Homo sapiens: one gene and its partner. The protein of the gene in region 2 purifies or fractionates together with the protein of the main gene of each other region. This does not show direct contact. Each region holds a gene or a part of one and is shown on either strand. Other genes may lie near its edges. The genes, in order: ARHGAP5 and KAZN.

Evidence for each region.
Region 1: the proteins of KAZN (region 2) and ARHGAP5 purify together in Homo sapiens (affinity purification with mass spectrometry; 2 studies listed by BioGRID and IntAct, with this or other methods). This does not show direct contact.

What each region holds. Positions count from the first base shown.
Region 1 is NC_000014.9:32,072,807-32,080,359, reverse strand, and holds the start of ARHGAP5 (rho GTPase-activating protein 5), read right to left. Parts: upstream 3,057-7,553; 5' UTR 2,925-3,056; intron 1-2,924. UniProt on the Homo sapiens protein: GTPase-activating protein for Rho family members.
Region 2 is NC_000001.11:14,601,670-14,608,945, reverse strand, and holds part of KAZN (kazrin), read right to left. Parts: intron 1-7,276. UniProt on the Homo sapiens protein: Component of the cornified envelope of keratinocytes. May be involved in the interplay between adherens junctions and desmosomes. The function in the nucleus is not known.

The DNA of each region.
Region 1 (7,553 bases), on a different chromosome or scaffold from region 2:
TAGTTATTTTTCTTATATTTAAATAATAAATATTTTTCTTATATTTAATTAAGTTAAATATTCTTATATTTAAATACAATACACTTAATACATGAAAATAGAAGCTGTCCTGGTTTGGGAGGGTGGGTTGTCATAGGAAGTCTCAAGGCATCTAGGAAAAAAACCCACAGGAATCCAAGGAACAGAGTTTGAAAACCAATTAAAGTTCATACTTAAAATTCTTAGCATTGAAGCATTTTTCTTAATTTCTAATATGGTTTTTCCTATTTCAATAAAATAATCGACAAAAGCCTGCACTTAAAACAAGAGCCTGATTACTCAAATTACTGAATGATGAATCTACTGATGTTTCTTCACAGGTCTTTTAGAAATTAAATTCCCTTGGTGTACTTTAAATATATAATACAAGTATCTTTTAGGAACATAGACATCACTAAAACAACACTGTACAATGCTTCTTCAGCCAATTATATTACTACACACCTTCTTGGTATGCAAAGAAAAAACTGTGGACCATACAACCCAAATAAATAGTTCTTAAAATAGTATCTATGGAAACTACAGTTGCGACAAAACTTATTCTGTAGCTACCAAGAAAATCTCTATTATGCCATTTCATATTTAAGAAGTGACCACTAAAGGCCAACACTCATCTTACATCCTGCCAATGTTGGTAAAGTTTAGTAAAGTCTTTATGAGACCTAACTTTTTCTTCAATTAAAAAAAGTGAGTTAGAAAACTTATTATCGCTACTTCAAATCCAAAAAAGGAATGCAAATACAATATTCATTCCTTAAATAATCTTAACTTTCAAGGTCAAAATAACTCTCCAAAAAAATGACTGTGCTAATATGCTTTTCAAACACAAATAAGAAGGGGAGACGGTTTTCAAAACATTTAGGATAAGTATCTTGTGACAGAATTAAGGTAATAATTTTGCAACACATTTTAAAAATTGCTAAGGTCGTTTAAATGGGGAGGGACACTACAAAACTCATAAAGATAACAGAATTCTGCCGCAATTCTTACATCAAAGTGTAACCCACCTCACTCCCCAGTACTCTTAATAATTAATGTACAAAGAATGGCAAAATAAGACATGTTGATCTAGGTTTAAAAACACAGCCTACACAAGACAACCAAATCAATAGTTATTTAATCATCTGTACCGTCTGATTCTGCTTTAAGTCAATTAGATCAATAGTGCTATTTCTTGAAAGTTACAAGCATAGGTATGCGCAGCCTTTCACTCCAGTGCGTTTAGTCATAAATTGCTCCAGTGTCTTTGCAAGTTTTTGGTGACACATACTTACCGCTCTTTGTACTACAGATAAAGGTAATGGAGGTCAATTAGTATACAAAGGATAGATGAAAGCAAAAAATGAGAAAGGAATTTAAAATGAAAGCAAAATCTTACTCAAGAAACTATCTAGTAGGTTACCTAGACGGTTAGTAATACTTATCTACAAACACTGAATAAGAATACCGTTTTATCGTATTACAGTACAAATAAACTAGAATTGACAGCAAAAGGTTTCATTAACGTATTTTTAAACCAAACATTATTCCAAATGTCTAATCGCTGCATCTAGATGAAATTTTTGTTAGGAGAACCATTTTAAGTGGAAATGTAGAGCAAGCTCCCATGAAGTGAACGAGATCCTTCATGCGGATAAACACCACCTAACATTCTAACTGAATACTGGTTCTGGATTTAAGTGGAATTGACAAACTCGCCCCCCGCCCCTACCTGTAGAAAGCAACATAAGCAAGTACTAGTAAATACAGCGAAGCATTTTGCTGTTTTACACCTGAACATTTAAAAAAAAATTCAGTTTCCTGCCTATCACAAAGGAAAAAATAAATGATCGATAAGAATTTAAACTTAAAACGTAAGCACAAACCCATCTATATGCCTATCTTGCTCTATCTCAAAATATTTGAATTCCCATTTATTAAGCGATGGCCAAATCCGAATTTCTATCACATGGTAGAAGTATAAGCGTCTCCCCTACAACTTTTTCGGGATTTTACTAAACGGCCTAATAACAGTTTGCCCTTACTTCCGTGCACCTTTCAACCTCAGCTACACCCCGAGCCTCCAGCTCTCTTGCATTTCTAATAACGCTGAAGAGGGAGGGTGAGAGGGAGTATTTCTGTGTGGATAAGTGCGCGCGCGCTCCCGCGCGGCTCCCCACCCCCACCCCGATACTTTTCTTTAGTGGAAAGAGAGGAAGAATCTGGAGGTTATTCTAGCGAAAACTCAGTATCAAAGCCTCAACCCAGTCGCAGTCAGCCCATAGGACTCTGGGCTCTGGATGCGCAGTGCAACTTCTCATATCTTACTCCAAGCTTCAAAGCAGATGGAAAATTGGTGAAGAGAACCCAGGGAGGAGTCGAGGAGATGAGGGAAAGTGAAAGGGCCGATCCCCCCTACAAGGCGTTTAAGTTTGCAACCGAGACTGTGTTTCCGCGAATCTGCACCCGCCCCGTGTACCCTTTCCAGGTGGAACTCGTTAACAGCAGCAACCCGGCCAACGGACACCGCCACCTCCCCTCTCGACGGACCACCCGAGACTCGAGCAAGTGAGGCGGCGGGCGAGAGCGGACGCCTGGCGGGGCCGGCGATCCCCGGCCAGCATCAGGCCTCCGCCGACCCTGGCCCCGTCACCTGTGGAGAAAGCACCCCCTCCCCCGGCCTCTCTGCCCTTCACGCCGAACGTATCCCTAACGCTGCAGCTGCTGCCCGCCCGGCCTGCGAAAACCGAGCGCAGCGCCAGGCTCCCCTCGGCGGCCGCGGGGCCCCAGCCCCTTCAACTGGTTACAACCGGCAGCGGCGACCGAGCGGGGCAGCTAGCCGCAGGAGGGTCCCCGTCCGGGAGGGGGCAGGCAGGCTTGGAGGAGCGGGGTCCGCAAGGTCCTACCTAACAACGTCGGTCTCCTCCGTCTCCTCCTCAACGGCAGCGGCCCCGGCGGTGGCGGCGGCAGCGACATTCCTGGGGACCGCTCCCGCCGCCGCCGCCTCCTCCTCCACTCTCCGCTCGCCTCTCTTCCTCGGCGCGCTCACCGAGCGGCGCGTCCCTTCAGCCACCTCCCCCCGCCCTCCCCGACACACACGCCCCGAAACCCTGAGCCCCACGGCTCCCGCAGCCAGCTCACCCACCCTCCCTCCCTCCCTCCCCGCCACCAGCGGCGGCCCGTCCCTCCCCCCTTCCCCAGCGCCCGCCGCCGCGCCGGGCTCAGTAATGGCGGCCACTCGGGCTCCCTCGCGCTGACGGATTTCTCTCCCTCTCTCCCGAACTTTACCTCAGCATCTCTCCCGGCGCGCGCAGCCACACACCCGACCGGGGGCGGAGCGGCGGCGCGGCGGCGCAGCCTGGACGGGACGCGCGCGCGCGCGCGAACCCGCGCTGCCCTCCCCACAATCCCCCGTCCCCGCCCCTTCACCTCGCGACGCCTCCCGCGCCGCGCACCCGGCACGGCCCCGCCCCTGCCCTCGTCTCCCGGGAGCCTGGGAAGGCGCGAGCTATCCAGTCGGAGGGAGGGGGACGAGCGCGCGGGGCCGCGTCCTCGCTCGCGTCCCCGCTCCCTCCTCCCCTCTGCTTCTCCCTCCCCTCCACTCCCCCATTGGCTTCTACCCCTCCCCCTTCTTCCTCCGCCTCTCCCACCATTGGTTCCCTCCCCTACTCCATTCCTTCTCACCTTTTCCCTTTTACCCATTGGCGTGAGTATTTTTCCTCAGCTTCCCTCTTTCTCCGTATTCTGCTCCTCCTCAGTCCCATCCTCCACGCTTTGGAAGCTACTGCCTTACTGCCCGGAGCGCCGTCGTCCCCGAACCTCCCCTGCTTCTCCCTTTCCTTCTGTTCCGGTTTCTGGTCGTAACTCAAGAGCAAACCACCGTACTGCAAAGGAACCAGATATTGTGCTCGCGGTTCCAAACCGGGCATGGGCACCGAATGCTTCTCGATAAATCCCCTTATGGTCTCTGAGCATTAAAGAAAGCAAGGGAGGAAAACATGCGCCCAAGCTCGTTCGCAGGAACATGTTCGCGTGTCTGCGCCTGTGTGCGCAGCCAGTTTTCTGGCTGAGGATCGCTCGCCAACTACAGACATCACCCGCCCAGGACCCGGTGCCACACTCACCCAGAAGACGAAACTCCACAGGAGCGAGAAGAGGAGTCCATTTCTCCGTCGGCTCGGCACGGCACGGGGATGCAGGCCCCTGATTCAGTACGTTCTGTGAAAGTGGAGCGAGAAGCCAAGACGTGGATCGAGAAGCCCCGTGGGGCGGGTCTCAGGGTGGCCCAAAAGACCCCTGTTCACGCCACTACCAGCCTAACTTTAGGAACTGTCGTCCACCTGGCTTTTATTATACTGCCTTAAACATATTCACTTTTTTGAGACTCTAGAAATTTCACAAGTTTTGGGGTAGAGCACACTGGGCTTTGGGTGTGTTTCTCATGAGGGCACTGACGCTGAATGGTGCAGTGAGAAAGGACGGTAGAAACCACTGCCTTTGCTTTTACCATTGAAGAAACTGAGGTCCTGTGACTTTCCCGAGGTCATCGGAATCTGCCTTGCACAGGAGACTTAAAATAGTTGCCAGCAGATAAAAGAATGAGCAAAACCACATCTACTCCAATTTGTTAAGTCTGAAAGAAAGTAATTGAGGGGGGATTCCTCTTTGGGGAAATATTTATTTCCTGCATTGAAAATAGTTTAATGTTAGTAAACATATAAAAAGTATTTTAAATTCAAGTTATTCTTTATTTCTTATGTTACATAAGGTACTGAAGTTAGCCAAGGTTGCTTTTGTGTTATAATGATGCAGCTGCTGCCAACCAGAAGTACATTTACGGTCTGTCAGTAAAGAAAACAAAAACTGCCTGTTGGTAAAAATCTATTAGAAAATATTTGTCAGTAAATTTGTCACAATATTCCAGCAGAAGTTCTGTTCGTTTTTCCGTCTTCCTGCCCTTCATATTTCTCAAAGGTAGACTTAATAAAGGTAGAAGAGACATTTCTAATTTTTCTATATATCTCTTGCTCCCTAATTTCTAAAAGGCATAACTAAAATGCTTTATTCGAGCCACTCCCTTGCATCTGAACCCTACCTACCAAGTAGGTTAAGAGTAGGTTAGGTAAGGTCTGTAGCTACTTCTTTCTTTCAGTTACAAATTGTAGGTGGGAAAGAAGGATGCGGAAGGAAACTTGCAAGGAAAGCAAACAGAAAGAAAAAGAAGTAAAAAAGGAGAGAAGGGAATTTGGTGGGTGGTCCAACCATCAAAATGTGGTACTAATGCCATAGGTATCTACACCACTTATGTAAGTTGGAATGTTGATGCATTCCAACGCATGTTTTTATCTTTGTACTGAAAGCCCTTAAGAATACCCGAAGTAAACATATAAAAAGTATTTTAAGTTCAAGTTATTCTTTATTTCTTATGTTACGTAAGGTACTGAAGTTAGCCAAGGTTGCTTTTTAGTGTTATAATGATGCAGTTCAAAGTCATAACCTGAATAAGATGTTAAGTACTATAGAGTGTACACCCTAAAGATACCTTAAAAATTATGTCCTAAATAATCAGAAATTTTAATAATCATGGACATGTATCAACATAAACCAAAGCCAAATAAATCAGGGCTTCTAAAGAAAACGTTAAAAAGGTGTAATGTTCAGTTATAGGACATGATACTGGAGGCAGGGAAGACTTGAAATCTCATTTATTTTCTTATAATGAAGACACCAGAAGACGTTAAAAAAAAAAAAAAGATCACGATTTCCAAACAATGATTTTCATAGTCGACATTATTTTCAGTTCTTTATCTTGATTTAGGGAGCCTGGAAATTTAGGACTTCGTTTCTTATTAATACTAATAGTCTAAAGGTGTTTACCAGTACAAATAAGTTATTGTATGTAATTTGCTCTTCTCAAAAAATAGAGTTTTCTGTATCAATAAAAATCTGAAATGGGGGCCACAATTCTGTGGCTAATAATGCCTATATATCCATAAATAAAAGGCATCAAAGAGCAGGAGGAAAAATATGTAAGATGGCATCTTTAAAAATTGATCAGGAGCCAAGACTTCAGAGAAAAAGCTTTAAAACACCCACCCTCCCTACTCAAAAGGATAATTTTTAAGAAAATAGGTAACTTATTTACACACACACACATGCGCGCGCACAAATATCGGACAGAAATGGAAATGGAATAAATATTAACAAGCCCTCTCAAATCAACTACTCTTCTTATCTAGAATAAAAAAGTTAAGCCTCTCTTCTGCTGTACTGGATAATTAAAATAACTGGACTCTTTGTTCCTCGTTTACTTTGAAAAAATTAGAATAAGATTTGTCAGGCATTTTCGGTTTTTAATTTAAATTTTCTTCATAAATCTCTAGTTCTTCATCACATCCTAATAAAGTATTAATATGCATGGTCTTTTTGAGATCAAAAGACATGACAGTCATAAAAAAAGTTATCATAATTCCAGCTTCTACCATTAGTGGTAATACTGCAATATTCAAATGTTTCATATGTTGTGGCTTCAAAAGAACTTACCCTATAGAGGCAGCTACACCCCCTGCTGGAAATCTTTGATCATAACAACTTTGGCTTCTGTAGTCTCAATCAGGAACATATGAAAAGCCAAATAAAGGGCCTTACCACTCATGACAGAATTGACCAATACTTTAGCCTGTCTGATACAAGACAGGCTTTTGGAGAACAACCTATGTCAGAATATCACCTTGATTACAGACAAAATACACAAAGAGGATGGAGAATAATGATGTAAATAGCTAAATAGCCAAAACACTTGTAAGATATTTGCTTAATTTCCAACTGTATTTCCACTCTTTACCTTATCCCCATCTCCTGCCTAGACTTCTCTTTTTCTCTCTATCTCATACAATTAGGCCTACTTGAGGGGAGGAAGAAGGCAGGATAAGATGGGATATTAATCCTTCAGCTAGGCAAATAATGGTGTATCAATCCACAGTAGCCATTTGCTGCATTAAGGTGCTTAAGGGCTTTCCCCAAATTTGTTTTATGGGTACCAATGATATTTTCAACATGAAGAAAAGGTGCTAATTATGTCTTGGCTGTTACTGTAGAAAATATTTTGACAAGAGTTAAGGTAATTGTGAGCATGGGACTGGAACAGGAGGAAAGTAGTGCATTGACCTTCTTGGCATTTTGTTCCACACAGCCTTGTTCTGTTGATATTCCAGAACTGTATTTTCAGACTGAAATCCCAAAGATGGTATCAGAGTCTAGCTTTAAAATGTCATGCTCATGAAACTCTAGTCCTAGGACATAACTGAAATACTGAAAGCAGCACACTATTTTTAAATAATTCGTATTTTGTAAAGATTATTTGTAATGCAGACTCCTTTTAAAGGAAAAACAATTCATTCAGATCCCACCAGCACAAATACTTTAATTAGACAAAATCTTCAAGTTATTTCCTCTCACAAAAGGAGGTATTGTTGGGCCATCTGGACTCTCTATTGAGTTTTTATGAAAGATCACAGCTTGAATTTAATCAACCC
Region 2 (7,276 bases):
ATTAAAAAAAAGAGATGACATTAATCCCACTGTGTTCCAGGTTGCACTTGCCAAATTAAAGCAAATACGCCATGTTCAATGGTTTAAATACACCATGTTTAAGTCAATCAAGGAAAATGAACGAATTCATTTGTTGCCGCTGACCAGAAGTCTGAGACCTGGCTGCGAAGATGATACAACGGGTGAGCTTACTTTAAAAGATGCAGGTATGCCTGTCCTGAAATTCACATCTTTTTTTTTAACTCTCTTTGAAAAGAGGACAGAAAAGCTATTATTCAAGATCTAAACCCAGTATCATCCACATCTTCCTTCTCCTTAAGACGCGCTCTTTCTCTGGGGGAGAAGGTCCCAGGTAGTAGCTGTTCTCTGCAGTGTCCAATTCCAATCTATCCAAACAGTTGTACTTTTTAATAATCTATCACAGCCAGTTTTAACCCCTAGTGGTGAAATTAGTGTATTTTCCAGCCTGTTTTTATTACGTATTACCATTGTCATGCACATCTGTGAAGGCTCCTGTATTTGTCACTTCATTGTCTATTTTTCCATTACACCCATCTAGACCTTTATTAGAAAATTATGTTTTCATGTCAGTTATACCTATGAGGCTGTGAGTCCAAGATAACTCAGTCCCCATCTTATTAAATCTGTGGTCTCTGGGCCTATGTGCCCAATCTCTCACAATAGATGGAGACAGAGAGAAGCGAGGAAGAAGAAAGGAAGAAAAAAAGAGGAAGGGAAGGCGTTAAGCAAAATAGCAAAACCGTCCTACTGGCATGTCTTTGGGCTACCTGATAGTGACATCTGGATATTCTCGTCTTAACGAAGCGAGCAGATTTCAGGGTCAGTCAAACGTGTGAACCTGTGTTCTAATCCCCTGTTTTTCTGTTCACTAGTGGACTACTTTCCAGAGCTTGGAAAAGCAACTTAACCCTTCTAAGCTTCAATGTCTTCATCTGTGGAATGGAGAGGATAACAATATCTAACTCTCTGTAATATGAAGGTAAATTGAGGAAATGTTTGTTGAGCTCATCACAGTATCTGGGAAAGCCTCAACGAACACTGGCTATTGCTCTTATTGCCCCCTTGGATGATCTCAAAAGTCACTCTGCCTCCCCAGTTCTGATCCTGGAACATCCCTTTTGCTAAAAATGAGCCATAACCCCACTAAGAAGCTCTGGGGTCCACTGTTCCCTTTCCCATAAAGGTAGGAAAGTCAAGTCCCCTCTGCGATTCTCTTTGGTCACAGCCCAGCAGTGAGGCAGAGAGAAGAGATTCTCACGTTTGAACATGGCTCAGCACTAAGCAGTCCTCTTACCTCTGGCCAGACAGGAGTCCCTGCTGGCTACGGATTCTTCAGAAGTGACAGAGCATATTTTGTCCAGCAGAACTCTGAGGATTGACGATGAATGAGTTAGTGTCTGACATGCAAATCCTAATTATAATTGCCACAATGCCAACATTAGAACAATAACAGTTTCTTGGGCAGTAATGGGAAAAAGGATGCCAAGCTCCAGAGCATCCTGGTGGAGACGCCAGGCAGTCTCTGGAATCACACTGGCTTGTGTTTGTATCCTGGCTCTGCCACTTGCTAGCTCGGTGACCCTGGGCAAGTCATGTGACCTTTGTGTGCCTCAACTTTCTCATCTGTAAAATGACAAACACTGTACTTACCTCATAAGGTGGTTTAAAGGATTCGTTGAGGTATTATAGGTAAAGAATTTGAAACAGTGCTTGTTATATGGTATGTAAGCACTCAATTAAAATCATCTATCATTAAATCAATGATCCTCATGATACCATGTATAAAGTAGACCAAAGTCCACACACCCCATCATTTAGTATTCACCCATCCATCCATCTATTCATTCAGCAAGTATTTACTGAGCTCTTACATTATGTACAAAGCACTGCTCTAGGTGGTGAGGATACAGTAAAATATAGATAAAACTCCCTGACCTCACAGAGCTGTCATTCCAAGACTAACAATTGAAGTCTCCCCTAACACCACTGCATAAAAAGCAGTTCGCAACCAGGGATAATTTTGACCTGAAGGGGACATTTGGCAACTTCTGGAGACATTTTTAGTTGTCACAACTGGAGTGTGAAGGGTTCTACTGTCATCTAGTGGGTAGAGGCCAGGAATGCTGCTAAATATCCTACAACACACAGGACAGCCCCCTGAGAACACAGAATTATCTGCTCCACATGTCAATAGTACTGGGGCTAAGAAACCCTAGCATGAAGGTATCTGTTTGAGGTTAATAAGTCCTCTGTTGGGCATGGTCTTGGGGTGCTAGAGGCTACTGAGGCCACAGAGAGAGAACTCAGGCAAAAGAAAAGACATGGGATGGATGGAGAATAAGGCTGCCACAAGACTCTGGCTTTGCCTGGACTCATCCTTCCCAAGAGAGATGAAACACACGAAGTCCAAGAAATTGGAGGCTCCAAGTCCAGGATCAAAATAGTCCTTTTTATTAGTGATAAGTGGCCCCTGGGCTGCCAGTCTTGCAAACAGAATCCAGTCCCTTCTTTGTCAGTTGATGGCTGAGAGGCTGGTTGATTGCCTAACTCTCAAGCATAAGACTTTACCGTAAGGACCCAGGAACTACCACCAGTCTAGGGAAACAGGAGTTTAATCAGGAGTAGAGACAAGGCTACAGCTCCCTGAACCTCCCTAATGCAACAAGCCAAAGGATGCTTCTGACTTAGGAGGCAGGGCAGAGAAGCATACACAGGTTTAAACAGCAGAGAGACCTAGTGGGTTTGCATTCCTGGCTCAGTCATGTGGCAGTTGAGTGATCCTGGATGTCAAAGTGGAATGAATAAGAACACAGACTCTAGAGCCAGAGCTTGGTCACTTCCTGACCATATGCCCTTTGGCAAGTAAATGTGTCATCTCTGTGCCTTAGTTTTCTCCTATGGAAAATGGGTACGAGCATGGTACCTGCCCAATAAGTCATTATGAAGACTGAATGCATTCCTGAAATGCATTAATCCAGAAAATCACTTAGAACAGTATCTGGCTCAGAGTACACACTATGCTGAAGTCTGCTACTATCATCCCCATTGTAGTCATCACTATCTCACTGCAAACAAGTGATTTAGTTTCTCTGAGACTCAGTTTCCTCTTTTGAAAAACGGGCATTACATAGTTGACCTGGAAGAACATAGGTTTGAATTGTGCAGGTCCACTTATATGTGAATTTTCTTCCACCTCTGGCACCCCTGAGACAGCGAGACCAACCCTTCCTCTTCCTCCTCCTCCTCAACATGAAGATGATGGGGATGAAGGCCTTTATGATGATCCACTTCCACTTAATGAATAGCAAATATATTTTCTCTTCCTTATGATTTTCTTAATATTTTGTTTTCTCTAGCTTACTTGATTTCTCTACTTAATTATAAAATACATAATACATGGGGCATAAAAGTATGTATAAGTCAACTGCTTATGTTATCTGTTAACTGTTTATATTATGCTATGTTTACGTTATCATAAGGCTTCCGGTCAATAGTAGGCTAGTAGGAGTTAAGTGTTGGGGGAGTCAAAAGTTATAGACAGATTTTTTACTGTGCTGGGTGGGGGCCAGCTATAGTTGTCACCTCGCTGGCCTCAGGATTCAATAATGCATGTTAAGCGCTTGCCAGGGAAGTTGATATATTGTAAGTGCATATTATTATTTATTAAAAAGTTTGACCAAAGCAATGAAACCAGTTCTCATTTACTGCTACATTAAACTATTCACCTTGACCAAAGAGAAAGAAACTACAGGCTTCAAGATGGTCCCAGAATCCCCAGCGTCTTGTGGCATGCCCAAAAGGTAAGTTCTGAGAATAATAATAGTGAGGTATGCAAAGATGAGTGGAGAATATCAGCTTCTTTAAAAGGGGCGCTCTGTTCTTAATGACTCATTACTTCACACAATCTGTAGAGCAGAGGTAATATTGGGAATGGAAGGCCTTTACATCCCCACAAAGGTAACATAGCGCTTGCTGTGGTGGAAGAGGACAGAGGAGAAGGGAGCTGGGCAGGACACCTCCTCTCCCCAACTTCTCTCCCCTCTCCAGCCTGACTGGAGAAGTGGGCAGAGGCCCTGGGGCTCTTTGCTTGCAGGACTGCCTGTTCCAAGCTCCATCTGAGCTCCTGTGCTGAGGTCTCAATTCATCAGAAAGTAAAGGGGCAGGGACCTTTCAGAAGCCTGACCCAAGGGTCTGACATGACCCAGCCAACAAAGCCCGCAGAATAAATTTAGCCCCAATGATCTTGTACCACACAGCAGCCACCTGCTCAAACAGTTGTTCTTGCCAAACTCATTAAAACTATGTTCAGCTTCTTTCATGTTTCCAGCAGCCTAGGACTCCAAGGGGGTAGCAGGAGTGCCCACAGAGCACAACCTCGCCTCCACCACTTGGATCAAGGTTGCATCAAACAAGCAAGAATGTTCTGGTGTCGTGCAACCACACGGGGAGGAAGAAGGCGTTCCTTTCCCTGATCTTCTTCCAGCTTCTCCACAACTGAGATGGGCCTGGCAGGGGATTTGGAGGGTGGTGGCAGGGGAACTGGAGAGTGGTGACAGGGGTCAGCAGAACTCTTAGCTGCTATGAATCGTCAGGTATGATCTGCCCCTGTGGATGGCCACCCTGTTGGCTTCGGGAAAGATGTCTTTTCCTAAATCATTCTTTCTGAACCCACTATGCCTGCAATTCAAGGCACCAAGGCAGTGCAATGACTGCTGGCGGTGACACTCCTGCCATATTTTGTGCTACTCACCCTAATATGCAGCCCAAACACTGAGACCTATTTCCACGTGCAACATCACTTAAAAACCCATTCTCTGGGCTCAGCAGGCAGAACCCCCTGATATATGGCAGGGGGTAAGAAGCCAGGGACCAATGTTCAGGCAAACCATTAAGGTATGGAAAGAACAGAGGAGTTCGTGTTGATTTCACTGTCCTTACCTACATAGCCCAGGAATGAATATATAGATTTATAATACATAAAGAAAACATGCAGTGAATGTGGCCAAATCCCAAGCTTGACCTTCTGGGCCCCATATGATATGCACGGTGAGCAGGCAAAGTTCCAATGAGCTCTTGCCACCTGCCAAGCCCATCTGCTACAAACACACTGGCAGCCAGGAAGTCACACATTATAACCCTATAGGATTCCTAAAAAGTGCCAACAGTCTTCTTGAGGAGTAAGAGGGTAAAGGGATGGAGAGAGGGCCTATCATGCCTTACCCTGGAAAGATATGTGACCAGGCTCCTGTTAGATGAGTCAGGTCAGCTCAGACTTCTGGGGTGCATCAAAGAGGTGTTGGAAAACCACTAAAAATCATGAAGTGCACAATGGAAGCATGAAATTAACCAGAATCAGAGACTTGACTTAAGAGGTCCTTTGAAGGCATTTTCCAAAGACAATGGAAAGATAGTAAATAATCCCCAATCAATAAGTAATTTCAACCACACTGTACTGATCTGTAAGTAATCTCTTTGTGACCACACATGACAATTTTCAGGGAGAAGACTGAATCCCCATCCCATGACAGGTTAGGAAAAGACACACTCTATTTTAACCCCTTGATCTGGCTGGAAAACCATGGCGCAGGCTACTTGCTGAGCTCTGTAACTTAGTGGCAAGCTAACAGAAGGCCCGAGATTCCCCAACATTTTGTTCCATCCTCTCTGCCATTTGAAAATTCTCTTTCTCAAAAAAGATAAAAGTCTACTTAGGAAAACAAGAGCAGAGGCAGAATGAATTGAGAAGGGGATGCCAAAAGACAGAACTTACTTTGCAAAGCGACAGTGTCTAGCGTCTCCACAGACTACTCACACATTCAATTCACTCCAAAGGTAATTTATACTTCACGAAAGAGTTTCCAGTGTTGTAGTAATGGTAGATGAGAGCTGTCAGGCCTTAAGTAACAGCCTATTTTAATGCCTGGAGAGAAAAATACAACTTGCACGCATTTATGGAAATGTACAAAGGTACAGGAAACCGACCCTTGCCTCCATCCCCTTCTAACAAATGCAGTAGGCAGGAAGTCCTCCACACCAAAGAAAGATGCTATCAGCACGTCCACTTGCATAGGAATACAAATACAATTATTTCTTTAACAAAGAAAACTAATGACAGTAGGCATACATCCTACTGGGCATTAAGTATTTTGTTATATACAGTTAACACCTATTTGAATTGGGTACCATAGCACTTAATTGTTTTGTTCTATGCATAGCAAAGCAACCAACTGAATCTAATATTAGTCATTCATCAGCTGATAAAACTTTTTCAGAGAAACAAACTGCTACATTTTCCCCTCAAAGAACAGCAAGCATTTTAAACACATTTTCCCAGAGATGTTATGCTGAGGAAAACAGCTTAGAAATGTTACTTTAAACAAATCCCTTCTCTGGCTACCAACAACAAGATGAATTGGAACAAATGCTTGGCTCTGTTCTTTCCAAGCCTCCTTCTGTCCACCTGTCAAAGGCTGCCGTGACCCCACCGACCCAAAAGGCAGCCTCTGGAGCTCTGAAATGTGTCACCCTGCACGGACGCCCTCTGCACTGTACGCCAGCATTCTCATTAAGGATTATCCAACTCAGTTGCAGGAGGGAGAGACAAGATGGGCTGGCTGCCAGGAATTCTTTCAACACAGATTCCGAAAGAATATCCTCCGAAGTGCCGAAAGCCCAGATTTTCAGCAGTTCACTTTCTAGATTCTGTTACATAGCAACCATGCCAGCTCACAGGGAGTACCAACCAAGTTAATATTTTGTTTAAATGACACACTGCATTAACCCGCTAGGAAAACCCAAATTTTCTTCATCAAAAGGGGATACCAACCTACCTACTGCCCGTTGTCATCCCTGGAACAAAACAGCCAATGATGGATTGATGAGTTTGCTTCATTCATTTAAAAAAAGAATTTAAAAAACAAAAACAAAAACATTTGAAAATGAATCTAACAGTCTCTTGGCAGAGGAAGCAAAAGGTGACTCTTTCCCAAAACCATTTGTACTAATATTGTTAAAGTTACATTAGCATGCATTTAATATGTGCATAATGCCCTTTCGTTAAAAGATGACTTACACGGTTGCATTTTGAAATGCAAAGATACTCGTTTTATTCAAAACCTTGATTTGAAAACTGATAACTCAATAGCACTTAAACACTCTTAGGGTCTGGGCCCATTGAACTGCACCAACACAGACAAAATGAAAACACAAGACTAATTTGGAAGAACAGTCAGAAACCCTGAGGAGCTGAGCCTCT